Homo sapiens: one gene and its partners. The protein of the gene in region 1 interacts with the protein of each later gene in a pairwise test. Each region holds a gene or a part of one and is shown in the gene's direction. Other genes may lie near its edges. The genes, in order: ATP13A1, MMD, MANBAL and CXCR2.

What was found.
Region 2: the proteins of ATP13A1 (region 1) and MMD interact in binary tests that used the Homo sapiens proteins (3 or more experiments, as listed by UniProt).
Region 3: the proteins of ATP13A1 (region 1) and MANBAL interact in binary tests that used the Homo sapiens proteins (3 or more experiments, as listed by UniProt).
Region 4: the proteins of ATP13A1 (region 1) and CXCR2 interact in binary tests that used the Homo sapiens proteins (3 or more experiments, as listed by UniProt).

The regions. Positions count from the first base shown.
Region 1 is NC_000019.10:19,660,634-19,667,888, reverse strand, and holds the start of ATP13A1 (endoplasmic reticulum transmembrane helix translocase), read left to right. Parts: upstream 1-4,212; 5' UTR 4,213-4,222; coding exon 4,223-4,618; intron 4,619-7,255. UniProt on the Homo sapiens protein: Endoplasmic reticulum translocase required to remove mitochondrial transmembrane proteins mistargeted to the endoplasmic reticulum.
Region 2 is NC_000017.11:55,411,793-55,418,835, reverse strand, and holds part of MMD (monocyte to macrophage differentiation factor), read left to right. Parts: intron 1-4,603; coding exon 4,604-4,685; intron 4,686-7,043. UniProt on the Homo sapiens protein: Involved in the dynamics of lysosomal membranes associated with microglial activation following brain lesion.
Region 3 is NC_000020.11:37,313,623-37,317,771, forward strand, and holds the end of MANBAL (protein MANBAL), read left to right. Parts: intron 1-2,685; coding exon 2,686-2,793; 3' UTR 2,794-3,638; downstream 3,639-4,149.
Region 4 is NC_000002.12:218,121,531-218,129,027, forward strand, and holds the start of CXCR2 (C-X-C chemokine receptor type 2), read left to right. Parts: upstream 1-4,497; 5' UTR 4,498-4,823; intron 4,824-7,497. UniProt on the Homo sapiens protein: Receptor for interleukin-8 which is a powerful neutrophil chemotactic factor. Binding of IL-8 to the receptor causes activation of neutrophils. This response is mediated via a G-protein that activates a phosphatidylinositol-calcium second messenger system.

The DNA.
Region 1 (7,255 bases):
GGTCTCGAACTCCTGATCTCGTGATCCGCCGGCCTCGGCCTCTCAAAGTGCTGGGATTACAGGCGTGAGCCACCGCGCCCAGCCGCCTCCTGCTTCTTTTTCCGGAACACCGGTCACATGAGTGTGCACGGAATTCCAGACTCCGTGTTCAGTGAAGCCATCCCTCCACCTTGGAGCTGGAGAGACTCCCAGGTCACAATGGAACAGGTAGGAGGCCCTGATGTCCTCCAGAGATCAGGAATTTATGAGGCTATTGGTCCCATGGCCAAGGCTTCCTACACGTTACTTCTTCTCAGGCTACTCCTTTTCAGCCAAGAAAATAAAAACATGCCTTAAAGGGAACAAAATTATTAAATGCAGGGAAAAACTGGAGTAAACCACTTTTTTTTTCTTTTTTTTTGAGACGGAGTCTGGCTCTGTCGCCCAGGCTGGAGTGCAGTGGCACGATCTCAGCTCATTGCAACCTCTGCCTCCCAGGTTCAAGAGATTCTCTTGCCTCAGCCTCCCGAGTCCGAGTAGCTGGAACTACAGGCATGTGCCACCATGCCCGGCCAATTTTTTTTTTTTTTTTTTTTTTTTGTATTTTTAGTAGAGACGGGGTTTCACCGTGTTAGCCAGGATGGTCTCGATCTCCTGAACTCGTGATCTGCCCGCCTTGGCCTCCCAAAGTGCTGGGATTACAGGCATGAGCCACCGTGCCCGGCCTGGAGTAAACATTCTATAAAGGTATTGCTACCAGAAAGGGGTCCAGTCCCAGACTCCAAGAGCAGAAGCTTGGACCTTGTATGGGAAAGAATTAATATTGGAGAAAAAACTGAAAAAGTAAGTATATCGAACTGTATCATGGGACAGAAACATGTCATTCCTATTTTTACTGAAGATTATCTTATTTGATACTATGTGATTATTAAGTCCTATTACATTTCCTTTCTCCTTTTACGAAGTCATGTATCTTAATAATATGCAGCCGGGCACGGTGGCTCAGCCTGTAATCCCAGCACTCTGGGAGGCCCAGGCAGGCGGATCATGAGGTCAGGAGTAGGAGACCAGCCTGCCCAACATGGTGAAACACCGTCTCTACTAAAATTACAAAAATTAGCCAGGTGTGGTGGCGCATGCCTGTAATCCTAGCTACTAAGAAGGCTGAGGCAGGAGAACTGCTTGAACCCAGGAGGAGGAGGTTGCAGTGAGCCGAGATCACAGCATTGCGCCTGGGCGACAGAGCATGACTCCATCTCAAAAAAAAAAAAAAAAAAAAAAAAAAAAAAAAAAAAAAAAAAACCAGAGCCGGGCCCGGTGGCTCACGCCTGTAATCCCAGCACTTTGGGAGTCCGAGGCGGGTGGATTACGAGGTCAGGAGTTCAAGACTCAGCCTGGCCAAGAAGGTGAAACCCCGTCTCTACTAAAAATACAAAAAATTAGCTGGGTGCAGTGGCAGGCGCCTGTAATCCCAGCTACTCGGGAGGCTGAGGCAGGAGAATCGCTTGAACTCCGAGGGCAGAGGTTGCAGTGAGCTGAGATCACGCCACTGCACTCCAGCCTCCAGCCTGACAACAGAGTGAGACTCCGTCTCAAAAAAAAAAAAAAAAAAAAAAACCAGAATATGCAGTGGGTGGCCGCAGCGGGTCACACCTGTAGCACTTTGGGAAGTCGAGGCAGGCAGATCTCTTGAGGCCAGGACAGGAGTTCCAGACCAGCCTGGCCAACATGGTGAAACCCTGTCTCTCCTAAAAATACAAAAATTAGCAGGCATGGTGGTTCATGCCTGTAATTCCAGCTACTAAGGAGGCTGAGGCAGGAGAATCATTTGAACCCAAGAGGCAGAGGTTGCAGTGAGCCTAGATTGCAACACTGCACTCCAGCTTGGGCAAGAGTGAGACTCCGTCCCAAGAAAACAAAACAAGACTAGGACTGGGCACCGTGGCTCACACCTGTAATCCTAGCACTTTGGGAGACTGAGGCGGCCAGATCATTAGAGGCCATGAGTTTGAGACCAGACTGGCCAACATGGCGAAACCCGTCTCTACTAAAAACACAAAACATTAGACTGGGAGCGCTGGCTCACACCTGTAATCCTAGCACTTTGGGAGACCAAAGTGGGCGGATCACAAGGTCAGGAGTTCGAGACCAACCTGGCCAACATAGTGAAACCCCATCTCTACTGAAAATACAAAAAATTAGCCAGGCATGGTGGCACGCGCCTGTAGTCCCAGCTACCCGGGAGGCTGAGGCAGGAGAACCGCTGGAACCCAGGAGGCGTAGGTTGCAGTGAGCTGAGATCGCACCACCGCACTCCAGCCTGGGCAACAGAGTGAGACTCCGTCTAAAAAAAAAAGTACAAAAATTAGCCGGAGCGGTGGCATGCGCCTGTAATCCCAGTTACTTGGGAGGCTGAAATGGGAGAATCGATTGAACTCGGAAAGTGGAGTTTGCAGTGAGCGGACATCGCGCCACTGCACTCCAGCCTGGGCGACAGAGTGAGACTTCATCTCGAAAAATTAAAAAAAGAATATGCAACAATATAAGCTACAAAATTTAAATATCCAATAAATTTTAAGTTTAAATAAATTTGCTGTATCAGAGGACAAAAAGAAACATAAAATAGTTACTGTTTGTCACACATACTGTTTAATCCTACTAATTGGTACTGTTAAGTAGTCCTATTGTGGTTTTGTTCAAATAGCATTTATGCAACAGTACAGTTAATAATATAGAACTATATAATTTCTTTTTTTTTTTTTTTTCAGACAGAGTCTCGCTCTGTCGCCCAGGCTGGAGTGCAGTGGCGCGATCTCGGCTCACTGCAAGCTCCGCCTCCCAGGTTCAGGCCATTCTCCTGCCTCAGCCTCCCGAGTAGCTGGGACTACAGGCGCCTGCAACCACGCCCGGCTAATTTTTTGTATTTTTAGTAGAGACGGGGTTTCACTGTGTTAGCCAGGACGGTCTCGATCTCCTGAACTCGTGATCCGCCCGCCTCGGCCTCCCAAAGTGCTGGAATTACAGGGGTGAGCCACCGCGCCCGGCCTAGAAGTATATAATTTCAAGTAAACACCAGTTTTTCATTTTTTATGTTAAAGTGGTAATTTCTTTTTTTTTTTTTTTTTTTTTTTGGAGACAGAGTCTCGCTCTGTCGCCCAGGCTGGAGGGCAGTGGCACAATCTCCGCTCACTGCAAGCTCTGCCTCTCCAGTTCGCGCCATTCTGCCTCAGGCTCCGGAGTAGCTGGGACTACAGGCGCCCGCCACCACGCCCGGAGAATTTTTTTTTTTTTTTTGTATTTTTAGTGGAGACGGGGTTTCACCGCGTTAGCCAGGATGGTCTCGATCTCCTGACCTCGGCCTCCCAAAGTGCTGGGATTACAGGCGTGAGCCACCGCGCCCGGCCTAAAGTGGTTTTTGTAATTCATTTTTCTTTTTTTTTTTTTTGAGACAGTCTTGCTCTGTTGGCCAGGCTGAAGTGCAGTGGAGCAATCTTGGCTCACTGCAACCTCCGTCTCCCGGGCTCAAGCAATTCTCCTGCCTCATCCTCCCGAGTAGCTGGGATTACAGGCATGTGCCACCACGCCCGGCTAATTTTTGTATTTTTAGTAGAGACGTGGTTTCACCATGTTGGGTCTTGAACTCCTGATCTCAGGTGATCCACCCGCCTCGCCTCCCAAAGTGTTGGGATTACAGGCGTGAGCCACCGCGCCCGGCTAGTATTTGTAATTCTTATCTATCACATTAAGGCTCTTGTCCGGTGTGGTTGTGTTCCGGGGCGGTCCCCGACCCCGCCCCTCACAAGCCCCGCCCCCCGCACCGGGCCCCGCCTCCTGAACTCCGAAGCTCCCGACCCCGCCTCCGCAGGGTCCAGGCTTCGCCCCTGGTGACAGGTGGTGCTGGTGTAGTCAAGGAGGAGGGCTCGCTTTTTTTGGTTCAGGTTGTCATGGTGGCGCCCAAGCCCGCCTTGCCGGCCTTGTCTTTTCCGGTCTCAGTCCGGCGTGGCAGCGGAGGCAGGCACCGTTAGGTCTTCCAGTCCCTCTCTGTCATGGCGACGCCCAGCCTCTTCTTCCGGCCACAGCCTGTCATGGCGGCACCCGAAGTAGTCCCTGCCGGGGCCAGCCTGTTCTGTTGCCCTGGCTCTTCCTAGTCCAGGCTGCCATGGCGGCGCTCAGGGCTTACCGGAAGTAAAACTTCGGAAGTGAGGCGTTCCTCTGCCCGGAAGTGAGCGCGGCGCTAGGAAAGATGGCGGCAGCGGCGGCGGTGGGCAACGCGGTGCCCTGCGGGGCCCGGCCTTGCGGGGTCCGGCCTGACGGGCAGCCCAAGCCCGGGCCGCAGCCGCGCGCGCTCCTTGCCGCCGGGCCGGCGCTCATAGCGAACGGTGACGAGCTGGTGGCTGCCGTGTGGCCGTACCGGCGGTTGGCGCTGTTGCGGCGCCTCACGGTGCTGCCATTCGCCGGGCTGCTTTACCCGGCCTGGTTGGGTGCCGCAGCCGCTGGCTGCTGGGGCTGGGGCAGCAGTTGGGTGCAGATCCCCGAAGCTGCGCTGCTCGTGCTTGCCACCATCTGCCTCGCGCACGCGCTCACTGTCCTCTCGGGGCATTGGTCTGTGCACGCGCATTGCGCGCTCACCTGCACCCCGGTAAGTGTGTACACGCGAGCCCGACCCCCAGCACGGTCGAGCCTCGCCGTGGGTCCCAGCTGCGGCCTTCCTGTCGGTCACCATCGCGACCTGGGCCACTCATCTGCCTGGCCTGGATTCCCAGGGGCACCCTCTACACTTTGGCGCAGGCTTAATCATGACCCCACTGCTGACTTGCTGTGCATGCCTGGTGCGGGTTATTTCCTTTTTCTGAAGTCCTCCCTGTTATGGTCATTTAGATTCAGTGATGTAATACTTGTAAAAGGCTTAGCGCAGGGCCCAGCATACGTCGCCCAGGTCAGGTAGGAGTTGTTTATACTAGTTCCCATATTAGCGACTACTCTTGTTCTGGAAACGGCCCTACCTTCCATCTCATCTGTCTCCTACCTTGGTTTTCAAAGTGTAAGGCGAGATCACTGGGATAGGTTTCCCCCATCTATGAAGCTTAGTTGGTTCTTAGACTGAACCAAGTCTTGCTGTCCAGTGCTTAGTGGTCTTCCATACTGTGATGGAAAGGAGCATGAAATGCAGTTAATTACAGTGTTGAAGAGAGGCAGAGGTGTTTATGAGCGAGTCATTTACATGATGTCTTTCCGCAAAATGAGGGTGGTGATACTGAGTTCTGTCGGGGATACAACAGCAAGCAAGGTCGCGCTCCTGACCCACAGTTTAGAGTTCTGAGTGACCAAGTGTCGTCGGAGGAGTTGGTGACTGTGAGCTTCCCTGGGCCTGAAGCAGTGACTGTGTCGTCTCTCTCTGGGCCTGCCTCAGGTGACACCAGCAGGTTTGGAGCCATGGACACTGAGGTATATCAGGAAGCTTCCCCTCTGATTCCAGGAGTGTGTTTGCCTCAAGAAGAGGAAAAGGGAACAGCATCAAGGGCTACAGAAAGACAGAAGCCCCCCACCCTGGCTGGCTCTGAATGTGGGTAGAATCCTCATTCTCCTCTCCTGAGAGACAACCTGTTCTGTCCTTCAAAAAGACTTATCTATCCCAGGGGAGGAGCTCAACGTGGTAGCTTTGAGGTAGTACAATGAAAGACACCAATGAGGGACAAAATAAAGGAGGGGTTAAGGGGACTGTGGCACCGCTCAAACTTCAGCTGCCTTTTGACCTGCAGCTAAGCAGCTTAGCTCTTAACTTCCTCTCCAGGGATGGAGAAGTGGGAGGAGCTGAACAGCCATCAGCCAGGAGAGGTGGATCTGGGTTTGATTCAGATCTCAGAAAGGGCCGCTTCTGCTCTCTGAGTTTCAGTTTCCCCCTTCTGTAAACTGAGAACCGTAACTAACAACTACTGGGTGCCATCTTGAGAAGCGGAGATGATATCTGCAGAGTGCCCGCCCTGGGGCCATCACAGCGTATAGCCTCTTGTACCTTTCTTCCGTGACGTCACGTTTGTAGTTATGTGATTGTTGTTATTTGCTGCCTGCTTTGGAGGCCCATGAACCACCCGTGCGGTGGCGCTTTGTTTCTGCGGGTCATCATTGTGCTCCCCCCATCTCCATGCAGCTCGTCTCCATGCAGCTCGGTCTAGCAGAGCAGCAGAGGAATGGATGGCGGTTCACGGGGTCCAGGGAGCACTGAACGAGTTCCATTCAACATTTCTGTGTCTTAGGTGCTGGGGAAACAGCAGTGAACAAAACAGGCAAATCCCCCTGCCTTTGTGGTGTTACTGGGAGGGAGAACTCATAGTCAGCAGTTGATGCCAAACAGAGATGACATCTAACATCAGGACAGGATGGGACATTGCCGGGAACTTTAGATGGGGCAGCCAGGGAGGGGCTCCTGAGAAGGTGATGTTTCAGCAAAAGCCTGAGGCAGCAAGGGAGCTGTGTGACTGTGTATTCCGGGCAGAGAAAACAGCACATGCCAAGGCCCTTTGCTGAGGCACGATCGAGCCCCATGTGCGTGTGGAGCTGTGGAGTGTAGTGAGCAGGGTTGGTGGAAGAGGCAGAGCTGAGCAGGAGGCCGGGGGCCTGTGATGGGGCGGGGGCTTGGCTCACGTGAATTGAGGACGTACTGGGTGGGTGCCTGGCAGCGTTCTTCCTATTTGAGTTCATGTCACCTTCAGCAGAGCAGAGCCCTGGGCATTAGGTGCTGTCTGTGCACCCAGCTTCCCAGCTTTTTTTGTTGTTGTTTTTGTTTTTGTTTTGTTTTTTGGGGTTTTTTTGTTTGTTTGTTTGTTTGTTTTTGAGATGGAGTCTGGCTCTGTTGCCCAGGCTGGAGTGCAGTGGCACAATCTCGGCTCACTGCAACCTCCGCCTCCCAGGTTCAAGTGATTGTTCTGCCTCAGCCTCCCGAGTAGCTGAGACTACAGGTGCCTGCCACTATGCCCAGCTAATTTTTATATTTTTAGTAGAGACGGGGTTTCACCATATTGGCCAGGCTGGTCTCAAACTCCTGACCTCGTGATCCCCCCTGCCTCAGCCTCCCAAAGTGCTGGGATTACAGGTGTGAGCCACTGCACCCAGCCTTTTTATTTTGAGACAGAGTCCTGCTCTGTCGCCCAGGCTGGAGTGCAGTGGTGCAATCTCGGCTCACTGCAAGCTCTGCCTCCTGGGTGCACGCCATTCTCCTGCCTCAGCCTCCCAAGTAGCTGGGACTACAGATGCCTGCCACCACGCCCAGCTAATTTTT
Region 2 (7,043 bases), on another chromosome or scaffold:
TAGCTTCAAAACTGGATATGTGGGAAAGCATTTTAATCTACAGTATTAGAAGTCTTACAGGGCTACCTATTGTCTTTTTTCCCATGTTCTTAAAGCACTAAATCATAGGCATGGGGTAGTCTCCTTATATATGCCATCTTCCTTTATTTAATAATTAAGTCAAGATTGGCACTATTGACAGTAGACACTTTTCCTGAACAAATATGCTCAGTCATAAAGGGGAGCTAATAGTAAGAGGGGTCCACTTATACGTTGCAACATAAATGATGTTGAAGGGGCCCTTGGAATATCCGTTGTCTTGGATTTTAAGTGTTTTTGTGTGTGTGTGAGATTCGGGGTTCTCTTGGTTCCAAGGCTGCCTGTTTCTCTTACTTACAGAACCTGCTGTGTCCACAGTAAAACTAATTGACTATGGGATATCTTTGTTAAGACAAAATAGTTCAGCAGTAGCTGGAATGTCTTTCTATTCATTCAACAATTATTAAGCTCTAGCAATAAGCTGGGCATTGTACTTCAGTTTGGTAATGGAAAGGTGAACAAGACAGCCTTCATGGAATTCACACTACAGTGGGAAAAGATGAAATAAAAAATAAGCTAAAACAAATCAAAGTCTTACCAATTGTGACATAGGGCTCTGGTTGGATGGGGAGGGTTGAAATGATACTTCAGTTAGGATAGTCTGGAAAACCTCTCTTGAGGAGGTGACATCTGAGCTGAGCTGAAAGGATGAGAAGAGAGCTGAGCATTCTGGAGAATATCCTAGACAGAAGTAAACAGCAAGTACACATGCCCAGAGGCAGACACAACCTTGATGTGTTTAAGGAGCAGAAAGGAGGTGGTATAGCCAGAGGATGGAGAGAGAGAAAGATGCCACCCTGAGACTGGAGGGGTAGTGAGGCCCAGACCACTCAGGGCTTGTGGGCCTCTGAACACTGTGTTACAGTGCTATCGTAAGCACTTTGGGAAGCCAGAGGCAGACTTTAAGCTGGGATTGGGGTGTGTGATGTGATCTGGGTTTTTTGTTGTTGTTTGTTTTTGAGACAGGGTCTTGTTCTGTCACCCAGACTGGAGTGCAGTGGTGCCATCACAACTCACTGTTGCAGCCTTGACCTCCGAGGCTCAAGCAGTCCTTCTACCTCAGTCAGAAGTAGCTGGGGCTACAGGCATACACTACCACACCTGGCTAATTTTTACATTTTTTTTTGTGTGTAGAGATGGGATCTCACTATACCGCCTAGGCTGGTCTTAAACTCTTGGGCTCAAGCAACCTCCCGCCTCAGCTCCCCAAAAGTGCTGGGATTACAGGTGTGAGCCACCATGCCCAGCCCCTCATCTGTTTCTAATGGAAAACTGTAGCTGCTATGTAAAGAAGAGAGTCTGTACTGGGTCAAGCAGGAAGACTAGTTAAGAGACTTTGTATTTGTACAGACCTGAGATGTTAGGTCTTTATTTAAGGTAGGAGACGCGGAGCTGGGATTACAGGTGCACACCACCACACCAGGCTAATTTTTGTATTTTTGTAGAGATGGAGTTTCTCTATGTTGGCCAGGCTGGTCTTGAACTCCTGACCTCAAGTGATGAGGTGGACTTATTTGAAATATATTTTGAAGGTAGTGTTGATGGTACTTGCACTCGGAGAATGAGGAACACTTGTGGGATTTGATCTACTGAGATCAGCCTCTGAGATCTGCTGGTGGGTTGCAGATCTACTCAGTGGGCACAGTGCTTTAGGTTGAATTTAAAGTGTGTTAGTGTGCTAAGGAGTGTTCCCAGGTCTCTGATCTGTTCTTTCCCTCCATGGTTTTGAAATTCTGTCATGGCATGGGAGAGGGGTATGGGGGAAGGAGGAGGTGATAAGAACGTTGGGCAAGGGGGAAGGCAGGAGAGTTTTGAAAGAGAAAGTGAAGGAATGAGTAAAAAAACTCTGCCTAACTAGTAGCTTTATTAAGTGCAGCTCCCACTCCCAGGACTGAATCACCTTCCTTCAAACCCTCTAGAGCTTGTTGGTTACTCAAGCATTGAGTAACCATTAGGGCCACTCCGCTTTAAATAGAGATGTCTTCCATAAATGGATGCTGTTTTCCATAACCAGCACTTGAACCTTTCCCATTCTTTTTTCGGGGAAGAGATGAAGGCCAGAGTGTGGGAGTTGATTTACATTTTACATCTGCTTTTCCATTTAGGTTTTAGGAGTGATTTCTTCAGGAGGCTGTGGAGGAGGCTTGATTGCACCCTGGCAGGTTAGAGAGAAATGGGAAAATTGTATTGTACTTTCCCAGCAGAACAATTATGCTGTCTATCCTACTGAGCCCCAGATTTAGAGAATTGCTTCCAGGATAGTTACCCTTATCTTTCCCTATTGCCCGTGTCTTACCCTGTGCATCAGGATAGAGTGCCTTAAGTCACCATGGGTGGGATATTTTTCTGTATAACTTTCTACTTTTATTTTTTAATGTGAATTATTCCAGGTGATCAGGGACTAAGCTGTCACAAACATGGCCATCCAGTTTATTTGTTTTTAGGAGAAAATGTGAAAGTCTATCCCTGTTGCTGGGTAATGGCTTGACTATTTTTAGATTGGGCTGCCAGAGATATAAATTGCTATTTTAGTCTGCAGCCTGGTGGTGGGTAGACAAATCCTACTTACTGCACCCTACACAGAGCACATTCAATTTCATCTAACTACAGCCATCTTGGGGCCTTGCTCTTTAGCCTTGAAAATTCCTAATAGGGTATGCTACTTATAGCTCTGTTGTTATGTCTCAGGACAATGATGTGGTATATCCTCCAATTCTTGGGACACTTTTAAAGCATTCTTCCCAAGAGTGTAATTATTTTCTTTTTTGCTAATAAGAGCTGTATAGCAACACTCTTGTCTCTTAGGAAATTAGTAAAATTATTTAAAATATTATCAGGGGAGAAAAGATGATGCTTAATAATAGTTAACTATATTTGAGAATAGCTTGGATAAATTTTGAAGCTACTAACTGTATATTTCTCTTTAACAGTTGGTTTTCAAACCATCTGGTAGATTATACTCAGTAAGTACATATTTTGTACACTAGTTAAATATCTTAACCCATCAGTGGGCCAAGTGAAATATCTTCACTGTCCCAAATTCATTCCCCAGTGGATTTTCCACCTGAACTATCTGTATTGTGTTAATAGTGGCTGCCACTTTATTTTTATTTATTTGATCTAACGATAACAGGCTCTTCCTAACTCAGGGAAAGAGTATTGGCTGGTCTTTTATTAATAAACTTGGCACTCTCTAAAATGGCTTGGTCATGCGTTTTAGCCAATTTTTGGCAACTTGGTTCTACCATTTGGTTCAGCCCTGTACCATTTTTTATTTTGTGTATGAATAAGGTAATGAGTAGTTAGAACTCATTAGTGGCACAAAATACCAACCCCCAACCCCCATTCACACTTCTTTAAACTAGCTTGAGCAAAAGGATTATTTATTGTGCAAAGCCTGTTGACGTCTTACAGACTCTTAAGCACAGGAGTGCAGTGGACCTCTGCAACCTGAATGCTGTTGAAATTTTTTTTTTTTTTTACGTCCGTCTGTTTCTGTGCATCTACCTCTTTCTTCTTTTATTCAGACAGCTGCTTTTTTCTCTCCTGAGAAAAAAAGGATTAATTAGACTAATCCAGAGTCCCTCATGAAACCTGTTGTGGGTATGGGTTGGGTTTTTGGTGGGGAGGGCATCCTCACTCAGCATACTGAAATGGAAGAATGCTATCCTCTCTTTAGGTTCTGTGGTATTCATGCTTTTCTCTGTACTACTGATGGTCACAAAGTTAGCCTAAAGGGAAGTGCGGAATATGGGCATATGTCTATATATGTAACAGATTTTGATATTTAGATACGTACACACATTTGTGTGTATATATGAATTTTATAGCCAAAAGAATCAGGTAGTAGTCATGTGTTTGGTTTTTGAAGCAGACTTTTTGATTTCAGGAAGAACAAAGGTGAAAACATACCTCCGGTTTTAAGTTGCCTAGAGGTAGCCAGGTGTCATTTATTTAAGCTGTCTGGTAATACAATATAGGGAAACTAGTGGGACAGGCCTGTTAATCATGGGATGTAGGGTTTAAAGATGTGCCTATATAAAGCTTTATAAATTTTAAGAGAGAAAATAGAAACTTTGTTTTTCAAATGTAGTGTATCCCTTTTCACTAAATGACAATAAAATTTAGAAAAATTCGTTTTTTTTTTCTAGTTGTACCGTGTGTGTGTGTGTGTGTGTGTGTGTGTGTGTGTGTGTGTGTGAATGGAGGAGGAGGGTTCCAGTTGAAGGGGTGGATATGGTTTCTCTTTGCTTTTGGTTGTAGAAGTTTGCTTTTGGTTATGGAAGGTTTTTCTTTTGAATAAACTGAAAGAAGGCTTAATCTAATAAACTAGGGTATTTGCTTAAGGATCATTGCTATTGGCTCAGTTTACTCCTCTTTAGTGGCTTTGGCTTTATTACCGCAACTGGGTATTTCCACCAGTCACTTCTTTGCGTAGAATAGACCACATACCCACTGGTGGGTTTCCTCATTGTTCTTCACACACTTTGAGTTTTTCTTACATGTGTTCTTTTTGTTTTTACAGGTTCATGAACCATCGAGCTCCAGCCAATGGCCGCTACAAGCCAACTTGCTATGAACATGCTGCTAACTGTTACACACACGCAGTGAGTACAAGTTTTCCACCATTGCCATCCTTTCCACGGGGCTTTGGTGGGAGGAAGGGGTAGTTATCTCTAGTAACCTCAGCACAATTAGTTGGATTTACCCATCTGTGACCTTATCTACCAGGAAATCAGTTCTGGGTCGTGTCACCAGAAACTATGTAAGCATGTAGAATGCTTTGTGTGTTCTAACCTACAGTCAGCTCTGTCCTGGATTCGCTTTCTCCAACAAGATATTCTTTAAAGGAATAATAATAGTATGTACCCTAGTTATAGAAAAACCAAAGACACCTATTTATGAAGACTGTCACCCCTAGAATGAAATGAATCGCCTTTTCAAGACAATCAACTGTGTTCATTTGGCAAAGAGAGTTCACAGTTTGTTGAAAAAGATGCTTTTTAAAATTAAGTGATCCTCTGAAATGGGGAGGGGAGCCATAGCCTCCCACTCCTACAGTGGCCATTGCTTCCCAGAGGAGATGTTATTCCATATTGGTGAAGAAAAAGCCGATGTGATCCCTAAATTTTTTGTTAATTTTTTTCTGCTTTGTAAAAGCAAAACATGCTTATTATAAGAAACTTTAAAAATACTGAAAAATATATAAGAAAAACAAAACTAACCAGAAATAAACTGTTAACACTTCGGTGCATTTCTTTGTGTGTGTGTTTGTGTGTATGTGTGTGTGTATATGTGTGTCTCTGTGTTGGGGGTGTTTGTGAATATGTATGTATTTTCAGTTTTCCTGTTAATGTGACATTAATGGCATTTCTTATGTCATTATAAATTTTTTACTTTACCTGTGGTTTCATTATTCCCTTGCATTTAGTGACATTGAGGGAAAAATAGTGGCTGGGATACAGTCTGAAAACAAGAAATAGAGAAAAGACCAGTTTGCTTCTTTAACAATGAGTGTTTGGAACAGGCTAGTTTAACTGTGGTAGTCACTGTTGGTACAATACAATGGTTCAGATATTGAAACACACAGCTTACCTTTAGGAATAATATTTACTCGGATGAACCTGAATAAACCTTAACTTGTCTCTTCTGAGTGTGTCACAGGTTAAGGAACACTTGTGTAAACTTAAGTAAAGGGAGACCTGACAAAACCCCCATATTAATTTTTTTAGAACAGAAAATATAATCTTATTAAACCGTATCTTGAATTTTTGGATTTCAGGGACCAGTAATATTTCTAACACAGACAAAACACCCCTATTGTCATCATTTCATTGAAGAGAAGATACTTTAACATGAAAAGTAGTAAGGACATGATCTCAAGATAAAGGGCATTCCTTTAAATGAAATACATTTTGTTTTATGAAAAACTTTATTGTACTTAAATGTACTTAAATCCTCTGAAATAGGAAGGCGAGCCATAGACTCTCACCCCTACAGTGGCCATTGCTTCCCGGAGGAGATGCAATTGTATTTAATGTTCTAATTTTGCTTGGGCCAACGAAAACTTCAGCATCTGAAAAACTCATGCCAGTCTCATCTAGGGGATTTAATAGTCTGTTGCAAGGTGACAAATGTAGGTTTGGGGAGAAAAAAGATAAGCAAATTGCTAACATTTGTATTCTTTGTCAAGTATGCTTACTCTAATATCTAATAAAGTAGTTTATTCTCCTGGGAGCTTCTGTCATTGTAAGATGTTTACTAGTCATAGTCATACACATATGACTAGACATTAAAGTTTGTGACCATGTGGACTATGAAATATGATGCAGAAAGCAAATCTCTCTAAAATTCTCAAGATTTTTTGAATAGGTGGGCCTTGGAAATGGTTTGCTCTTGCTTACTTAAAAGGCTCTGTTAAAAATGAAGTGACCCCAAAACTCTTACATTCTGCAGTAGCTCTCAAATTGGTGGAATGTACAGATCCAAACTGAAAATCAGGGTATATAACTTCAACAACTGACTTTTTGTATGTGTGTGTTGCTATGTACATTATAATACCTATTACTTGATTTGTTCAATTATCCTGTCCTGAAATATTGAGATTTCAATTGCAATAGGACAGATATTTTAAAATGAGGACCTCCCTGAAAAATCTGAGTATATGCTTGGCTGTTTTTTGAAATGGGGTCTCACTCTGCCTCCCAGGTTGGAGTTCAGTGGTACAATCATGGCTCACTGTAGCCTCAACCTTTCAGGCCCAAGCAGTCTTCCCACCTCAGCCTGCCAAATAGCTGGGACTACAGGTGTTTGCCACCATGCCTGGCGAATTTTTTAAATTTTTGTAGATACAGAGTCTTGCTGTGTTGCCCAGGCTGGTCTGGAACTCCAGGGCTCAAGCGATTCTCCTGCCTCAGCCTCCCAAAGTGCTGGGATTACAGTCATGAGCTACCACACCCTGCCTG
Region 3 (4,149 bases), on another chromosome or scaffold:
TTGAACCTGGAAGGCGGAGGTTGCAATGAGCTAATATCGAGCCACTGCACTCCAGCCTGGGCAAAAGAGTGAGACCTTGTCTTAAAAAGAATGGTGGCATTATAAGGTTCCTGGGTGCCTAGGGGCCCGAGGAGGGAGGAGGGGCTGCCCCCAGCTGGAAGGAGGAGCAGGGAAGGAAGGCTAGACAGTGAGTAGGAGTGTATTCATGGACAGGGCCAAACCATGGGAGCAGTTTGCCGGGTGGCCAAGGAAACAGGTATTCCTGTTGATGAAGGTGACCAGCGGAAGCTCTGGGGCCTGACTCAGTGTGAGGGATGAAGAGGAGCCCATGTGAGGCTGGAGAGGTGGCCTTTCTTAGATGCCATTCCAGAGACAGCCACTGGAAGCTTTAAGGTGGAAGGTGCAGTGGTCAGACCTGCACTTTAGAATAGTTCCTTTCGTGGGTGCATGAGGAATGGACAGAGACAGCAGGCACTTTGCTTAGCTGTGGGCGGAACTGAAGGGGGAATTGGATGCTGGAGAGAGTAGCAGAATCAAGAGGTAGAGGGGGTCATGTCAGCAGGACATGGTGACCCACTGGACAGTGGGGAGCAGAGAGAGGGTGAGGTTACCGGGTCTCTGGTTGCTCCACCAGTGGGAGGAGGGCCGGGCCTTCTGGGTCTGGGACAGTTAAGTTGGAGGTGCCTTGGAGATGCCAGTCCTGATTGTCTGGCAGACAGCTGGATCAAGGGAGAGGTCTGGGAGGTGCCAGAATGGTTGAGGCTCTAGAGACAGGGCCTGTGGAGTGAGGGAGGCACTGGGGCGGCAACTGGGTCTCACTGTCCCTGTGGTCTCTGAACTGAGCCCCACTGAAACTGGAGGAGCCCCCAGCCTTGAGCTCAGAAGGCAGACTCCTTCCTAGAGATCCAGGCAGGCCTTGCAAATTTTGTTTTGTTTTGTTTTGGCCAAGTTACATAAACAGAGTAGGGGGACCTTCAGATCATTTTGATTTTTGGTGGGAGGAGGCTCAGCAGGCCGAAGGAATCCAGCACTGCAGTGAGAGGCCTGGCTGGGGAGGGGAAGCCCTCCAGTTATCTTGGGACAATCACTCCTTGGGGGCCTGGGACCTGGCTGGCTCTTCATATCTGGTTATCTCGCCTGGCTGATGGGAGACGATGTTGGCCGATAGGAGGGAGCTGACAGGCCTCTGGATCAGATCCGAGGCAGGGACTGCCCTTCCCTGCATGGGCCCTCCTCTTCTGTAGGGTGGGCTGAGGCTTGGGCCACGGGCCAATGGGGCAAGCAGGGAAGGTCAGGGAGTAAAGTGAGCTGGAAGCCGGGGTTGGGAAATGAAACACAGAGGGGTATTTTTCTCATCTGGAAGTGTCCCCCCTCCCAGGAGTCTTAGTCTGCTTCTTATTTTCCCATTTCTCAATAAAGAACATGGGCACTGAGAAACATTTCCCAATCATAGTGCTGGGGGCGGCAGGGTGTGGGGGCCACGGTCGGCACCTGAAAAGGGGCAGCGCCTCCTCAGCCCCTCACTGCCATGAGGGAATGCAGGGCCATTGTCACCGGATGGTTAGTTTCAAGAGAATCTAGGAATCCAGATTTCATGGGAAATCTCCCAATTGGCTTAAATTTTTAAATAAACACTGCCGGCCAGATGAAGTCTGTGGCCTGGACGAGGCCTGTGGGCTGTGGTTGGCGTTCTCTGGGCTAGCCCGGCCTCTCTGACGTCCGTCCTTTCTGGCCACGGCACACTGCAAGTTATCACCCAGAGGAGGAGAGGACACTAGATAGGAGCACACTGAGCCTATTCCAGATACTTCTCTGACATGAGCCTGAGTGGCTGGGCCAAGCTGTGTCCCTTCCCTGGAGTCTCCCTTCCTTATCAGCACAATGAACGCCAGGGCTAGATCTGTGGGTTTCAACCTTTCGTTCCTTAGCAGCAGAACTTTGTTTCATTTCAATCTTACAAGGGACAAATCACAGTGTATGAAATAGATTGAAAATCAGAGCTGCTCCTGTCGCCCAGGGAGTCTGGAATTCTGCCCCGAGGCTGCCTCTGCCCTCCCCCACAGAGGCACCTCTGACAGGCTCCGCAGAACACAGTGTGGGACTGCCCACCTGCCGGCTGGCCCTCTGCACCCCTCCCAGTCCTGGCATTCTGTGGGTTGAATGGGAGGACAAGAATGGCAGCCAGAGGAGGGCAAGCCACAGTGGGTCTGCCCCATAGCCAGCTCCTCGCCCACATTTTGTCCAGTCCCTGGCACGAGGTGATCGGCCAGTCACTGGGTGCAGCTGGCACTTCCTGGGTGCTTTCCACGTAGTTTTGCCTCCTCACATCAGCCCTGTAAGGCGGGTGTGGCTATTTCCATTTCACAGGTGAGTAAACCAAGACACAGAAAGGGGAAGTGAGTTTCACACAAGGTCAGTTGGCTGGAAAGGGAAGGATCCCAGGTTCTACCTGGGCGTCTGAGACCCCACAAGCTGCTCCCTCCCCGTGGGGCTTCCTTTATTCTTCACTGAGAGCCACGATGCTCCGGGGCAGTCCCACATCCGTGTGGGTGGTAGGTCCCGGGAATGACAGTTTCCATCTCTTGTGTTTCTGTGGCATGCTTCTTTGCTTTCAGATGTGATCTCCTTTTGCTGGCGTCAGGCTTGATCCATCTAAGCAGGACTCTCCTTTTTATCACCTCACAGGAGGCTGAACCGTCTGAGCCCAGAAGTGCTGAGGTGACGAGGAAGCCCAAGGCTGCTGTTCCTTCTGTGAACAAGAGGCCCAAGAAAGAGACTAAGAAGAAGCGGTAGAAGAGGAGGCCTGAGGAGCTGGGCGGGCAGGGAGAGGGTCTTGGGGACAGCCCTCCTGGGAATCTACATTGTGTTCCCCCGCATTCCAGGCTCAGGGTCTGAGGAGGCTGTGACGCCCTATGACCGCAGAGATCTAGACAGTCGTAACAGTCCCCAGGCTCCAGCTGGGCAATCCACCACTTCCTCTTCCTTCTGCTTCTGTGACGGTTTAGAGTCAAGGGGGCTGAAACACACTGTGAGCATAGACTGTATTAGGTTTGTTCAGAAGCCGGGTCAGCTCACAGAGTCACATTTTCTTGCTTAGTCATGTGTCCCTCCTTGAGTTGCCCCCTCCTTGTGGGTTTACACTACATTTGGGAGTCATTGTCTAATGCTGACAAGCACACCCTCTCCCATTATTTGTGCACTACAGATCTCCTCCTGATCAGTCACCTTTGTTGCTGCTGTGTAGACAGAGCCAGGCCTCACCTGTTTGTTTAGGCCAAGATGCCATGGACATGCAGCGTTAGTGATCCCACTAGCTGTGACAGCCAGGCCCAGAAAATGCCTGGCGTGAGAGCCAGCAGACAGCCAGGCCAGGGTAGGCAGTGCCTGCTTCTGCTCCATCAGGTGCAGGGGATTTGGCTGAAGGCGTGCATATTTCCTGGGCACAAACTTCCTGAGCCTCTGAAATGGGAGGCTCGTCAATTTCAGACCAACCTCTTTTCAACCCATCATAGCACGTTCAAGGTGTGCCTTTTACTTCTACCTGTACATCCCCCATCCCTTCAATTCTTTCATTCCCTGACCAGTGAGAGGGTTCCTGGGGGAAGTATGGTGAATAAACTGACATGCATGCTTCAGAACCTGCCTGTGTTGTCTTTTGCTGAGGGAGAGGGGAAGCCTAGGGCCCTGCCCCGGGGATGAGGGAAAGGCTTGACCCCCAGAGAAGTGGGACAGTGGGGGTGAGGATGGCCAGAATAGGATGGCTTCGGTAAGAGCAGTTCTGCAGGCTGAGCCATTCTGGAAGAAGTTTTCAGGAAGGATCCGGCTAAGTGCTTCGTGTGGCCCTTAGTCACTGGAAACACTTGTGAATGGCCGTGGGTGTGTTAGAGTTTCCACTGGGTCCAGGCCCCACTCATTCCCCAGGTTCCTTCTGAGGAAGATGCTGCTTGTCTTCAAAGTGGCTTGAGAAAAACCAAGTGCAATACAGTAAAAGGCCTTACGTGGCATTGGCCAGGTCTAGTCACTTGCCCTGAATCAGCTGCTGAGGAAAAGCCCTGACCTCTTGGTAACTCGGATTTGCCCAGCTCATTTACAGCCTGCCAGACAGCTTTCCCAAATGCCAGGACTGATGAGGATCTTAAGAGATGAGCG
Region 4 (7,497 bases), on another chromosome or scaffold:
TGGTCTCGCTGACTTCAAGAATGAAGCCACGGACCCTTGCAGTGAGTGTTACAGTTCTTAAAGATGGTGTGTCCAGAGTTTGTTCCTTCAGATGTTCAGATGTGTCCAGAGTTTCTTCCTTCCGGTGGGTTTATGGTCTTACTGACTTCAGGAGTGAAGCTGCAGGCCTTCACAGTGAGTGTTACAGCTCTTAAAGGTGGTGCATACAGAGTTGTTTGTTACTCCTGGCAGGTTCGTGGTCTCACTGACTTCAGGAGTGAAGCCGCAGACCTTCACAGTGAGTGTTACAGCTCATAAAGGTAGTGCAGACCCAAAGAGTGAGCAGCAGCAAGATTTATTGTGAAGAGTGAGAAAACAAAGCTTCCACAGCATGGAAAGGGACCCGAGCAGGTTGCCGCTGCTGGCTCAGGTGGCCAGTTTTTATTTCCTTATTTGGCCCTGCCCATGTCCTGCTGATTGGTCCATTTTACAGAGTGCTGGTTGGTCCATTTTTACAGAGTGCTGATTGGTGCATTTACAAACCTTTAGCTAGACACAGAGCACTGATTGCTGTGTTTACAATCCTTTAGTTAGACAGAAAAGTTCTCCAAGTCCCCACCCGACCCAAAAATCCAGCTGGCTTCACCTCTCAATGTGAGTTAGTGTTCTATTCATCATATTAGTTGTTACCTAGATACTTTGTTTTTTTCATTGTGTTATTGTTTTATAGGCCCTGTGAGATTTATGCTTTAAGGAAGTTCTAATTTGGTGCACATAAAGCTTTTGTTTAAATATTTAAAACTCTTTTTAGCATTTCTGATAATGCTGGTTTAGTAGTGGCAATTTCTCTCAGCATTTGTTTGTCTGAAAAAAGACTTTATCTCTCCTTCATTTATGAAGCTTAGTTTTGCTGGATACAAAATTCTTGGCTGACAATTATTTTGTTTAAGGAAGGTAAAGATAGGACCCCAATCCCTTCTGGCTTGCAAGGTTTCTGTGAGAAATCTGCTGTTAGTCTGACAGGTTTTCCTTTATAGGTTACCTGATGTTTTTGTCACACAGTTCTTAAAATTCTTTCCTTCTTGTTGACTTCAGATAACCTAATGACTATGTGGCTAGGTGATAATCTTTTTGTAATGAATTTCCCAGAAGTTCTTTGAGCTTCTTATATTTGGGTATCTAGATCTCTAGCAAGGTCAGGGAAGCTTTCCTCAATTATTCCCTCAAACACGTTTTTCAAACTTTTAGACTTATCTTCTCCCTCAGGAATACCAATTATTCTCAAGTTTGGCTGTTTTACATAATTTTATATTTCTTGGGGACTTTGTTCATTTCTTTTGGTCTTTTTTTTTTATCTTTGTCTGATTGGGTTAATTCAAATGCCTTGTCTTTAAGCTCTGAAATTTTTTCTTCTAATTGTTCTAGTCTATTGTTGAAACTTTCCACCACATTTTGTATTCCCTAAGTATGCTTTCATTTCCAGAAGTTTTGATTAGTTTTTCTTTACGATATATACCCTCCAGAAATTTTTTCATTCATATCCTGAATTGGTTTTTTTAAATTTCTTTATGTTGGTTTTTACTTTTCTCTGGTATCTCCTTAAGTAATTAATGATCAACCTTCTGGGCCGGGCACAGTGGTTCACATCTGCAATCCCAGCATTGTGGGAGGCCGAGGCAGGCAGATCATTTCAGGCCAGGAGTTCGAGACCAGCCTGGTCAACATGGTGAAACCCCATCTCTACTAAAAATACAAAAATTAGTTGGGCATGGTGTCACATGCCTGTAATCCCAGCTATTCAGGAGGCTGAGGCAGGAGAATCACTTGGGCCCGGGAGGCAGAAGTTGCAGTGAGCCGAGATCACACCATTGCACTCTAGCCTGAGCAACAAGAGTGAAAATCTGTCCCAAAATATTATTAATAATAATAATAACAATAATAATAATAATAATAATCAACCTTCTGAATTCTTTGTCTGGTATTACAAAAATTTCATCTTGGTTTGGATTTATTGCTGGAAAGTTAGTGTGATCTTTTGGGGGTGTTACAGAACCCTGTTTTGTCATATTGCCAGAATTACTTTTCTGGTTCCTTCTCATTTGGGTAGACTATTTCTTCAAGTTATTCTTGAATTTATTTTTGATTTGACTTTTTTTTTTTTTTTGAGATGGAGTTTCGCTCTTGTTACCCAGGCTGGAGTGCAATGTCTGATCTCGGCTCACTGTGACCTCCACCTCCCCGATTCGAGTGATTCTCCTGTCTCAGCCTCCCGAGTAGCTGGGATTACAGGCATGTACCAGCACACCCGGCTAATTTTGTATTTTTAGTAGAGACAGGATTTCTCCATGTTGGTCAATCTGGTCTTGAACTCCTGACCTTAGGTGATCTGCCAGCCTCAGCTTCCCAAAATGCTGGGATTACAGGCGTGAGCCACCACGCCCAGCAACTATGTTTTTTTTTTATTTCTTTTTCTTCCCTCTTAAGGATCTGACTTTAATATTTATAGTTTATTTTAGCCTAATTTGATCCTTGGTTTTTAGGAGTGAAGACTTTTGGATTTTAGGAGTGAAGACTCTGTATGAGTTCGTTAGTTAGAGACAGTCCTTGTGTGCTGGCTTTCCCAGATCCTGGTTGTAGCAGTTACGTACTTGGTGTGTGGGAAGGTTTACTGTCTCCTACAGGGTTGGAATGGCAGGAATCTCTTTAAGCTTACCTCATTCTCTCGTGGGGTACTCTTTATTTATTTATTTAATTTTTCCCCAGTATTTTACTTACTGAGTTGATTCAGGCTTTGGACCAGTAGGGGAAGTATCCCTGGGTAGGCACCAGATGTAGCTAAAGTAGGTGGGTAGGCACCGGTTGTAGCTAAAGCAGGTGGGCAGAGATCCCAGCCTTGATGAGAGTGCCTGGGAGAGCTCTCAATTAGATGTGCTGAGGTTTTGTCAGGGTGAAGGGTAGGAGCTACCTCAGGTCCCCCACTAGGCCAGCTGGAAAGCTATCCACCTCCCAGCTTCACTCCTTTCCCAGTGTTCCAGCTATTCAGATCAGACAGGCAGTTATTTTCATCTGTAGAAATGTTGATGTTCCAAGTAGAGAGGAATTGTGACTGCCTGTCATGCAAACCTGAATCTGGGGAGTGCTCCTCCCGTGGGGATGCAATCACCCTGATTTGTTCCAGGAAGGCTGTCTATAGGTGCATCAATGCTGCGTTCCTTTGGGAGAAGCCCCAGCTCTGTCTGCAGTGGCGTACCAGGGGGAACAAGGATCCCTTCTCTAAGACCCTTCACAATACCAGAGGCTGCCTGCCTATTGGGTAGAGGTGCAAACTTTCCCCCACTCTGCCCAGCACAGCAATTGTCTCTGCAATAGGAAACTTCCCACCAGTGAAAAGATCTGGGACTCAAGCCCTGCCATTCAGATTCTTTTGTTCCACAGGGTATTCCCTTGATGTGATGTTCTTCCCCTTCCTCTAGGAATGGGACTTCCTGGAAGCCAGACTACAGTGCTCTTCTGGGTCTAGCCACCCAGTGGGCCTACCAGACTCTGGGCTGGTGCTAGGGAATGTCTGCAAGGGATCCAGTGGTGTTACCTGTCTTCAAGACTCCCAGCAGTGAATACCAGCACCATCTCTGACAGAAGTGGGAGGGGAGTGATGCAAACTCTGCAAGATTCCTTGGTTGTAGATAGACTTAGAGTATTGACTTTCTCAAATGCTGGTTATAATTATAGTGAACTTATCACGTGGACAGACGCAGGACTTCTGGTTAGCCAGGGTGTTGTAAGCAGTGGTGATAGCTGAGAATATGCAGCCGTTTTCTCCTTCCTGGGTACAGTGCTATTCTGCCTAGAGGTGAGTTTTTGCCTGTCTCACAGAGTAGGCTGCAGCCTGCCACTTCTTTCAAAAGTTCTGTGGATTCTTTCAGCTTTCCTGTTCAGTTCCTGCATTCGTTCCTGGAGAAAAAAAAATTATAGTGTGAATCTCTACACGCTATTCTGTCCTTCCAGATGGGAGAGGCATGCTAATGCTGCCTCCAATCTGTTGTCTTGGGGGGAAAGAAAGCAATTTGTTTTTGTTTTTTTTTTTAATGGATTTGCTGGGTTTAGTAACCCAGAGGTCATTGGGAACCTTGGCGAAAGTTATTTCAGTGGAGCAGTAGGAAGGAAGCCAGTTGCAGTGTCTTTGTTGAGCAGCAGAGGGGAGGTGAGGAAGTGGAGAGAGCAGCTGTGGTGGCTGAAGGGTGCTAGGACAGAGGGAGCATGATAAAGCCATAAGTAAGATGTGGTAGAAGGGAAAGAGCCAGGACAGAGGGGAGAGAAAGCAGGATCCTCAAGGACCAGAGAGGCAGTGGGTCCCACAGTCAGGTGCGGGGATTCAACAGAAACAGAAGGAGGGACGCTTCTCACTCTGACCCCGGAAAGAAGGAAGAAACTGCGTGCGAGTTCAGACAAGTCCGTTGGCGGGGGCTGGGATGCCTGCATCTTCCTTGTTAAAAAAGGAAGTGCAGGTTCAAAACATTCAGAGACAGAAGGTGGATAGACAAATCTCCACCTTCAGACTGGTAGGCTCCTCCAGAAGCCATCAGACAGGAAGATGTGAAAATCCCCAGCACTCATCCCAGAATCACTAAGTGGCACCTGTCCTGGGCCAAAGTCCCAGGACAGACCTCATTGTTCCTCTGTGGGAATACCTCCCCAGGAGGGCATCCTGGATTTCCCCCTTGCAACCCAGGTCAGAAGTTTCATCGTCAAGGTTGTTTCATCTTTTTTTTCCTGTCTAACAGCTCTGACTACCACCCAACCTTGAGGCACAGTGAAGACATCGGTGGCCACTCCAATAACAGCAGGTAGGTGACTTGTTCAGTCTGAGATGCTGGCAACATATTTCTAATGGAAGAGATCTGGAAACTTCAGCCTCCTCTGAGGCCCCTGAGAACTGGGGTGATGAAGTGTAGAAGCTTAGAGCTAAAGACAACTAAGTCTTCACCTAGACAGTGTTGCACAAAAGAATTTTCTGCAATAATAGAAATGTCCTAGACCTGCCCTGCCCAGTATGGTAGCCACTAGTCACACGTGGCCACGGAGCACTTGAAATGTGACTAGTGTGACTGCGGATCTCAATTTTTATTTCATTTTATTTTATTTTATTTTTTCTTTTTTGAGACAGGCTCTCACTCCAATGCCCAGGCTGGAGTGCTGTGGCATGATCTTGGCTCATTGCAACCTCAACCTACAGGTCTAGGTGATTCTCCCACCTCAGCCTCCCAAGTAGCTGCAGCTACAGGCATGTGCCGCTACACTCAGCTAATTTTTTGGGTTTTGTTTGTTTGTTTGTTTTGTTTTTGTTTTTGTAAAGACAGGGTTTCGTCATGTTGCCCAGGCTGATCTCAAACTCCTGGGCTCAAGCGATCCGCCCACCTCGGCCTCCCAAAGTGCTGGGATTACAGGCATGGGCCACCTTGCCTGGCCTTTATTTTAATTAATTTTAATTTAAATAGCTACACATGGCTAGTAGCTAGCATGCTGAACAGAATAGAATTAGAAGAAGCTCCCGTTTTCCAAAGGCACACAACAAGGCCCAGAAAGAATGACTTCTCCAAGCAGGATTAGAAGCCAGGTTTTTGTTTTGTTTTTGTTTGAGACAGGGTTTTGCTCTGTCGCCCAGGCTGGAATGCAATGGCACAATCTCGGCTCACTGCAACTTCTGCCTCCCGAGTTCAAGCAATTCTTATGCCTCAGCCTCTGGAGTAGCTGGGATTACAGGCGTGCGCTGCCACGCCTGGCTAATTTTTGCATTTTTAATAGAGGCGGGGTTTCACCATGTTGGCCAGGCTGTTCTGTAACTCCTGGCCTCGAGTGATCCACTCACCTCAGCCTCCCAAAGTGCTGGGATTACAGGCATGAGCCACCGCACCAGAAGCCAGTTTTTTAATTCACTCCACCCTGCATATAACCGCAGTGATCTCCATGGAAATGAAATTGACCTAAGGAGCATGAAGAAGGAGGCTGACTGGGAAATGTCAAATCTGGGCTCCCCTCTCTACATCCTTTGTATCTGACTTTCTGGGACACAGGGAGGTACCTAATGGAGCTCAGAAACTTTAGGCTGGGATCCTGCTCCTTATTACAGTGAACAGGAGATAGGATTTGAGAGCAGATTTTTAGAAGTTTTTTAAACTGAAAACCTAGTTCAGCTGTGTCACTCTAGGTATGTTGCTTAACCTCTCAGAGTCTTCATTTCCTCTTCCAGAAAGTGCCTGCTTCGTGAGGTTATCCTGAGGATTAATTGATACAAATTCTGGAAAGCACTTTGCCCAGAAGCTAGAACCTGGTAGACACTCAACATTACAGCTAATATGACAATTAATATCCAGGTCAAAGTAAATTAGATGTCATCAAAGTCAGCCTTGAAAGCAGACCCACTGCCGACTGCTTTCCCTTGACTGGGGATGTAGTGAGAGAGGCAGCATGTTATCAGTGAATAAACTATTCCAGTAATAATGATCACAACAATAAAGGTTAACATTGTACTTTATGTATGTTTTACGTGATTTACAAGCAATCCCTCATTTCATCCTCACCACAACCCCATGAGTTGGATTCTGTATTGGCCCCATTTTACAGATGAGTAAACTGAGACTCAGAAAGGAAAAGTCACTTGCCCAGAATTGCTCAGCTAGCCCTGGTGTCATCTGCCTCTCTCCATATGTAATAAGCCTCTATCTGGTTTTAGCATCAACTGGCCAGGTGGCATTGCATTCTTCCCCAGCTTGGGAAAGAGAGGTGACAAAGACTAAGAAACATTTGCTGAACAGTTGGACTCAAAGATTCTTTCTTTGGGGTAGGCAGGCAATTTAAGTGCGTCTGCCACAGGGATTGAGTCCCCTCTGGGCCCTGGGATGCATGGAGCAAGAGATAGGGTAAGGAATAATGGAGGGGATTGAGGTGTTGTTCACTGGGGTGGGCACTTGTGAGACAGCAGAATTAGTGTTCATGGCTCTGCCTGGATTAATTCATTCATTTGTAATCAATAGCAAATTGATAAAATACATTCTTAGGGTCACTTAACATTGTTTTTAAAAATGCATTTGGACTTTGGTGGAATCTTCCCTTTTACCAAAAGGCTTTCTTTCCAAATTAGAGGGTCTTGGCTCCAAGGGTGGTAAGCTGCTGCAGAGTTGGTGTCCTCAGACCCAATGCCAAGTGTGCGAAACAAGAAAGAATATCAATACCCAGAGATGGACTTGTGGTCAGAGCAGATGGTTGGGGAGTGAGGGGAAAGACAAGAGGCAGGAGTGGGGCCAAGAAGTAGAGGCATCAGGTCCAGGGAGGAACGCCACCAGACTCACCAGAAGCTTTAGTCCATCTCTGTCATTTTAATGCACTGCTCCCTTTGACATGTGAAAGACATTGAAGGCTATAGTACTGCCAATGGTATGATGGGGAAGCCTGAGGCAGCTGGAATGCCAGGAGACTCAGACAAGGCAGCTGAAGGAGCCAGCGGCTCTGAGATACAGCAAA